2 linked regions of the Homo sapiens genome follow. The protein of the gene in region 1 purifies or fractionates together with the protein of each later gene. This does not show direct contact. Each region holds a gene or a part of one and is shown on either strand. Other genes may lie near its edges.

The links. Proteins that work in one complex are often made in the same cells at the same time.
Region 2: the proteins of REXO2 (region 1) and SCLY fractionate together in Homo sapiens (co-fractionation; one large-scale study listed by BioGRID). This does not show direct contact.

Annotation. Positions count from the first base shown.
Region 1 is NC_000011.10:114,445,967-114,449,466, forward strand, and holds part of REXO2 (oligoribonuclease, mitochondrial precursor), read left to right. Parts: intron 1-12; coding exon 13-121; intron 122-1,859; coding exon 1,860-1,913; intron 1,914-3,500. UniProt on the Homo sapiens protein: 3'-to-5'exoribonuclease that preferentially degrades DNA and RNA oligonucleotides composed of only two nucleotides. Binds and degrades longer oligonucleotides with a lower affinity.
Region 2 is NC_000002.12:238,064,001-238,067,500, reverse strand, and holds part of SCLY (selenocysteine lyase), read right to left. Parts: intron 3,145-3,500; coding exon 3,032-3,144; intron 1-3,031. UniProt on the Homo sapiens protein: Catalyzes the decomposition of L-selenocysteine to L-alanine and elemental selenium.

The sequences.
Region 1 (3,500 bases):
GTGTCTTTCTAGGAAATTCAGTTCATGAAGATAAGAAGTTTCTTGACAAATACATGCCCCAGTTCATGAAACATCTTCATTATAGAATAATTGATGTGAGCACTGTTAAAGAACTGTGCAGGTAAGGGCTATATTTAGGATCCATTAAATTACCTCATTTAGCATGTTTTAATTGAGAATTTGTGGAAAGTAATTGGATAGAGCTGTAGAACTAAGGCTACCAAGTGGGTTCATATCTTCCTCATCCCATTCTTGCTTGTATAGGACCTTAACTTACCCTGGACTGGTGAGAATTGGGAGCAACAACGTCAGACATGTTCCCAGTAAATAAGCCAATGCCTGGCACAAAATAAGTGCTCAATACATTTTCTGGATTAACTAATATTATGTGGAAGTCTTGTGACTGGGAACATATAGATGAAAAGCTCTTAAGTACTTTAGAAAATAGTGGATCGACATATGTGTAAAAAAACGCACCCTGAAAATATACTCTATGATGACTCCTATAGTGAAAATGTGCGTATGGACTAGTGAGGTCACAAGGGAAGCAGCATCTAACTGTGCTGGAGCAAGAGGAATGGGGAGTCAGAGAAACCTTTACATAGCAAGGAAATAGCTTTGAAATTGAGATGTGAAGAAGAGTGGAAGTCTTGCAGGCATTTTATTGAGGAGAGAGCATTCAGAGAGAGCAGACAGAAGTATAAGAATGTGAGGGAGCAGGAAGCTAAGGCAAAATGTGTTAAATGAATCCCAAAGCATTCATTAATGCTGGAGTGCAAAGCATGAGGTTGGAGAAGGTGGGAGGTGGTTCTAGGGCCTCAAGAGCTTGCACACCATGCCAGTGAAGTTCACTATGATCTTGCAAGGAATGGGGTTCCTTTGAGAAAGTGTAGGTAGAAGAGTGAGTGATAACGATCGTTCTGATTCGAAGGTGGCAAGAAAAGTGGTAGAAAGATAGAAAGGAGGCTTTTTTTTTTTTTTTTTTTTTTTGAGACGGAGTCTCGTTCTGTCGCCCAGGCGGGAGTGCTGTGGCGCGATCTCCGCTCACTGCAAGCTCCGCCTTCCGGATTCACGCCATTCTCCTGCCTCAGCCTCCCGAGTAGCTGGGACTACAGGCGCCCGCCACTGCGCCCGGCTAATTTTTTGTATTTTTAGTAGAGACGGGGTTTCACCGTGGTCTCGATCTCCTGACCTCGTGATCCGCCTGCCTCGGCCTCCCAAAGTGCTGGGATTACAGGCGTGAGCCACCGCGCCCGGCCTGAAAGGAGGCTTTTCTGCCATCTTGGGGAGAAGAATGAACTGGAGAAAGGGCAGGGCATGGAAATGAGGGGCTTGTATGATAAAAATGTGAGAGGGTCAGTTGACAGACACTCAGTGTTCGAATGAGGTGGTGTGAAAAGGAAGAGGTATAATGTTATTCTGATGTTTGTAGTTTGAGCAGCTTTGGTGGATGATGGCAGTGTTCAAATAAAAAGGAGAAGAAGAAGAGTAGATATGGTGGATGGGGCAGGGGAGGTGTTGACAATGGTGGGTGTGTTTTGATGTATGTTGAATTAGAAGTGTCTGGTAGATTTTTAGATGGAGATATCTAGTGGGCAGTTGCATATCCATGACAGAAACTCTAGGGAGGGCTGGGCTGGATTTCCAGATTTAGCAATCTTACACACTGATGAGCTTGCTCATAGAAAATATATAGAAGAAAGAGAGGAGAGGGTAGAAGATAGAGGCCCCGGCAAAGAAGCAACTTGAGAATCATGACTCAAATGCCATTTTCAATGTTAATGGATTACTTGAAGGAGGTAATTGTTCAGTATATTTGAGACAGCTTCCTTTGAGAGTTCCATTTCTGCTGTGTATAGACGCTGGTATCCAGAAGAATATGAATTTGCACCAAAGAAGGCTGCTTCTCATAGGTAAGTTTGAGTTCTACCAAGCGTTTTCCAGTCTGACACACACTTAACTCCCAAATTCCTGACTGCTTGAAATAATGTCCCTTAACTCTTTTTTCTCGGGGAAAAGATAAAGTTCAACTAGCATAAACATAACATTCTTTTACTGTTAGGAATTCTGGTCAGGATTCCAGTGTTCCATTCTGAGAGGGTTATATAGCCTTTATTGCTGTTTCAAAACTCTTAGATAGCTTGGTTTATAGGAATGATGAAACAATCTGTAATCTTTCTAGTAATGAACCGTGTTAACTTTCTTCCCACAGAAGATATGGACTTGCAGCCTTTTGAAATTAGAACACTTTTTGTGTGCAATTCTATAATACAGTTGCCTACTTTGACACTTGTTATAGTTTTTCTGATTGTTTCTCTTATGTCTGTAGCCTTAGGTACAAGTAGACAAGGAATTTAAAGATCTTGTATATTCATGTGTCCTGTACTGGTTCTTTTCTTTTTGATTTTGTAGTCTTTCAGGAGAAACATGAAACCTGATGGGAGGTTTAGCAGCTGGCTTCTAAGGGTAGCATTTATTAAACCATTTACTGAACCCCTATGATGTACCTTGCACAGTTATAGGCAAATAGAGAAAGACCAATCCCTAAAGAGTCTGGCATTCTTACATTATTTTATTGAGTGTATGTAGACTGTAGCACAGGCATACAGGCCTAGACTACCTTATCTGACACAACTGGGGTATGTTTTGATTTCAGAATTTTTCAGATTTTAGAAAGGTGTTACTACATCTGTATTGTTTATTATCTTGTAGCATCCCTAACAAGGTTTGAGAAGCAGCCCATAATAAAACACATAGGTATTCTGCAGTGAAACGTGTATATTCACACCAAATGGCATAAGTAATGATGACTGTCAATAGCCTCACATTAAGATTGCTCAGGTTTTGCTACATAATAGGTTCTGTAAGTACTGTGGGTTTTCAGGTGTGTTTTGGATTTCAGTTTTGTGGATAAGATATTGTGTGCCTTTATTTAGCCAGAGGCTATAATTTTGGCAGCTTCGGCTCTGACATATATCCAAGTCCTGGAAAGAAAGCAGATGGTTGCCTTAGCCACACAAATAATTGTCATAAAACTCTTGCACTAAAATTTGTGCAGGGAATTCTCTAGAAGTGGCCCTTGGCCCATGATTCAGAGTTTATTGATTTACTTGCACACTGTTCTAATAATCTTGGTTACCTGATTTCTCAGAATACAACAGATGAGAAACAACATATTGGAAGAAAAGAAAGGCTCTTAGATGGAGGCAGGCTGCCACTGATTATAGCACAAATCACCATGAGAGAGGAGGTAGATCCTCTGGTATGGTTAGGTACTGTTTGATAATTGATGTTTATTATGATGACTGAGTCATGACTTATGTTCAAGTGTGTCAGTCTGTTTTGTTGAGGGACATCATCAAGTATTGGGCAATGTTTCTCAAACTGTGTTCCATGAACTGTTTATAAGTATTCTACAAATGTGGTCGATTAAGTTTTAGAAATACTAAAATTTATTAATTTTAGAAAATTAATAAATTAGAAATATAGGACAGCTTCCT
Region 2 (3,500 bases), on another chromosome or scaffold:
AAACACAGCAACCATGCTTGATGGGGCAAAGAAGGAAAGGCTCTGGCATGGGAATGCCGAAAGTTTCAGTGACCATTCTTAGTGTACACACCAGGAGTCCCCAAACTTTTTTGACCATTCAGTCTTATTTAAAAATAAGAAAAAATTGAGCAGGCACCGCTAAAACATATACTATTACGAAACATCATAAAAAAGAGAAATATAAAAAGCTGAGGTAAAATAAATATGCAAAGTAATTCTGCTGCTCCTTAACGCTACTGTATAGATGTCAGTTTTAGTAGTAGTTTCCTAAACACCTAAGTGGTGTTTAGGAAAACTCCATCATTTTTCTTGGTGACACTAAAAGTCACCGTAATAAACTGTCACCCTCACTCTCAGCCTTCCCTCTCTCAGTGATAATGGTTTGGCTGTGTCCCCACCCAAATCTCATCTTGAATTGTAGCTCCCATAATTCCCACGTCATCAGAGGGACCCGGTGGGAGGTAACTGAATCATGGCGGCAGGTCTTTCCCATGCTAGTCTCGTGATAGTGAATCAGTCTCATGAAATCTGATGGTTTTATAAAGGGGAGCTCCCCTGCACGCACACTCTTCTCTGCTGCCATGTAAGATGTGACTTTGCTCCTCTTTCGCCTTCCTCCGTGATTGTGGGGCCTCCCCAGCCATGGGAAACTGTGAGTCAATTAAACCTCTTTCCTTTATAAATTACCCAGTCTCAGGTACATCTTCATTAGCAGCATGAGAACAGACTAATACACTCAGGAAATGGCAACTCCATCCCTCAGCAGCCCAGGGCAAAAGCGTGGGCTCTTTCCCTTTTCATTCCCCGCCAATTAATCCACCAGCAAATGCTGTAGGCTCTGTGTTCAAACGATGTTCCAAACCTGACTCTGCCTCTCCACCGCCCAGCCACCAACCAAGCCAAGGCCACTGCTGTGATGTTCTCCTAGCAGGCCCCCACCAGGGTCCATTCTCCACATAGTGGACAAAGTAATGCCTCGAAAACCCAAATACATTTTGGGCACCGTGCTTCATCCCTCCCCCAACAGGGTGCTGAGTACACAGCTGGTGCTCAGTCAGTGCTGCTTACGTCAGCGGTTTCCAAAACCCCAAGGCCCTCTCAGGAGGTCCACAAAGTCAAAACTGTTTTCATGATGATACTAAGAGAAGAACTGCCTTTTTCACGCTCCTTTTCTCACAGGTATATGGTGAACCTTCCAGAGGCTTCCGTCACTATGATGTGACTGCAGTGGGCTGGACGGGGAGGTATGAGCGCCAGCTATCTTCCAGCAACAGGCAGTAAAGAGACTTCCACATGCACAACAGTGCAATGCTCACTAGGTTTCTTGTTTTGCCGAAGATAGTTTATTTTTCATAAAAATTCATGAATGCTGAGCTTATTTTCAGGGTTTTTGTTTGTTTTGCTATTATAAGCAAGACTGTGATAAATATCTTAGGTATGTAAAATCCCCACATCCTCAACATATTCCTTAAAATAAATTTCCCTCAAAGGCTTTAGATAATATTTAGGCTGGGCATGGTGGCTCACACCTGTAATCCCAGCACTGTGGGAGGCCGAGGTGGGTGGATCACAAGGTCAGGAGTTCAAGACCAGCCTGGCCAAGATGGTGAAACCCCGTCTCTACTAAAAATACAAAAATTAGCCAGGCATGGTGGCGCGTGCCTCTAGTCCCAGCTACTTGGGAGGCTGAGGCAGAAGAATCGCTTGAATCCGGGAGGCGGAGGTTGCATTGACCCGAGATTGCACCACTGCACTCCAGCCTGGGCGAGAGCGAGACTCAATCTCAAAATAATAATAATAATAATAATAATAATAATAAAATAAAATATTATTAGTTTAAATAACAATATTGTGAAAATAATTAAACCACTCTATAAATTGATTTTTTTTCTTTTGCATTTCGATCTGAGTAGCAACACAAAGTGAACTGCAACACTTTTGAGTTTATGGTTCTTAATTTGTGGAAACAAAGGCTATCAAGGAAACCTAAAAGCCACTGCCAGGCTTCATTCAGGTCCAGAACATGATTTCTCCCTGAGAGCGATTCCCAGACTTTTTCATGAGACAATGCCTGTCATCGGCATTTAATTATTCTCCATATTTTCAAGTCTAATACGTCAGAAATTTCAATTTTACTAGAGGAGAGACTGGATACGAGGCAATGTGCAGAAGATTAGCCAGAATAGACCAACAAATAAGCCAACAAATAAGTTAATGAATGACTAGTATCTGAGCTGAAGGGCTTTGTTATTAAGTTGCCGTGAAACGTTTAATAAGCAAATGGATAGGAGAACGTATTAAACCTGTAAATTGTACGCAAGTGTTACTAAATCGTATGGCCTGGCAATATTCTGTTTGAAGTTAATTTAGTTCATCATCATCCACAGTTAACACAGTTTATCTTAATTATCTCTCATAAACATGAAATAAGAAAGGTAAGACTTTAGCTTGCTCATCTGTCTGAAAAACAGAATGTAACTCTGTCATATAACTGACTTGAAGCAAATTCTTCTCCAAAACCTCCAATTTAATGGTCTACATTACAATAAGAATAAATTGGAAACAAATAAGAATATTCATAACTAAAGTAATTAATGAAAAAGTAATTTTCATCTTTAAAAAGGGCCAGGATTATATGTTATCCTGATGACCTAAAAGACATATTTTGCAAATTCTGTAAGGATTGACTGAGCTAGATCTGTGAAGTGCTCCACAGGTACTGACTGCTACTTCAAGGAACTCTCAGTAGACACCTTTCTCATCTGGGAAAGGGTGACAGGACAGCATGTTAAAGATTAAACATTAAAGGTTAAAGATTACAGTATCGACAAGGCTCAGCTTACAAATGGGGCCTTCCCAGAAAAGAAACTATCAAAAATTACAGCTCAAGAATTGCAGCTAACAGAAACCTATTCAAAACAAAGCCGTCACGTGTGGGTGTGCAATTTCTCTAAGAGCGCCCCATCCCCATTATCTCCCATCAGTGAACACGTGCATCTTCTAGAATTACCTGCTGAATACGGGCTGCTGGGATTTCCCCAGGCTTCCCACATGGCCTTGGTCATGGCCTGGATAACTTCTGGCTCCAGGGGAGTCGTTGCATTATAGTCCATATAAACTTTCCTGAAGGAAAGAAAGCAAAGACACCCATTAAGGAAAAGGAGATGGCATATGGGAAATATGGCTGCTCTGTGTCTATCCCATCGGCAGGAGCAAATAATGTCAAGGGCATGGTGATCCTCTGCATAAGCACTGCAGGCATCCACAAGCTGCACTTGGGAATCTACAGATCTACACTACTTATGGAAAATGCATGCATAATTTCTAAGACTCTAGTTTTTGTCAATTTCTTTTATAATTGATAGGACTTGGATTTTCATTTCGGTTTTCAAAATTTCTTTCTAGCAAGGCACAGTGGATTGTGCCTGTAGTCCAGCCATGTGGGAGGCTGAGGCGGAATGACCTCTTGAGGCCAGAAG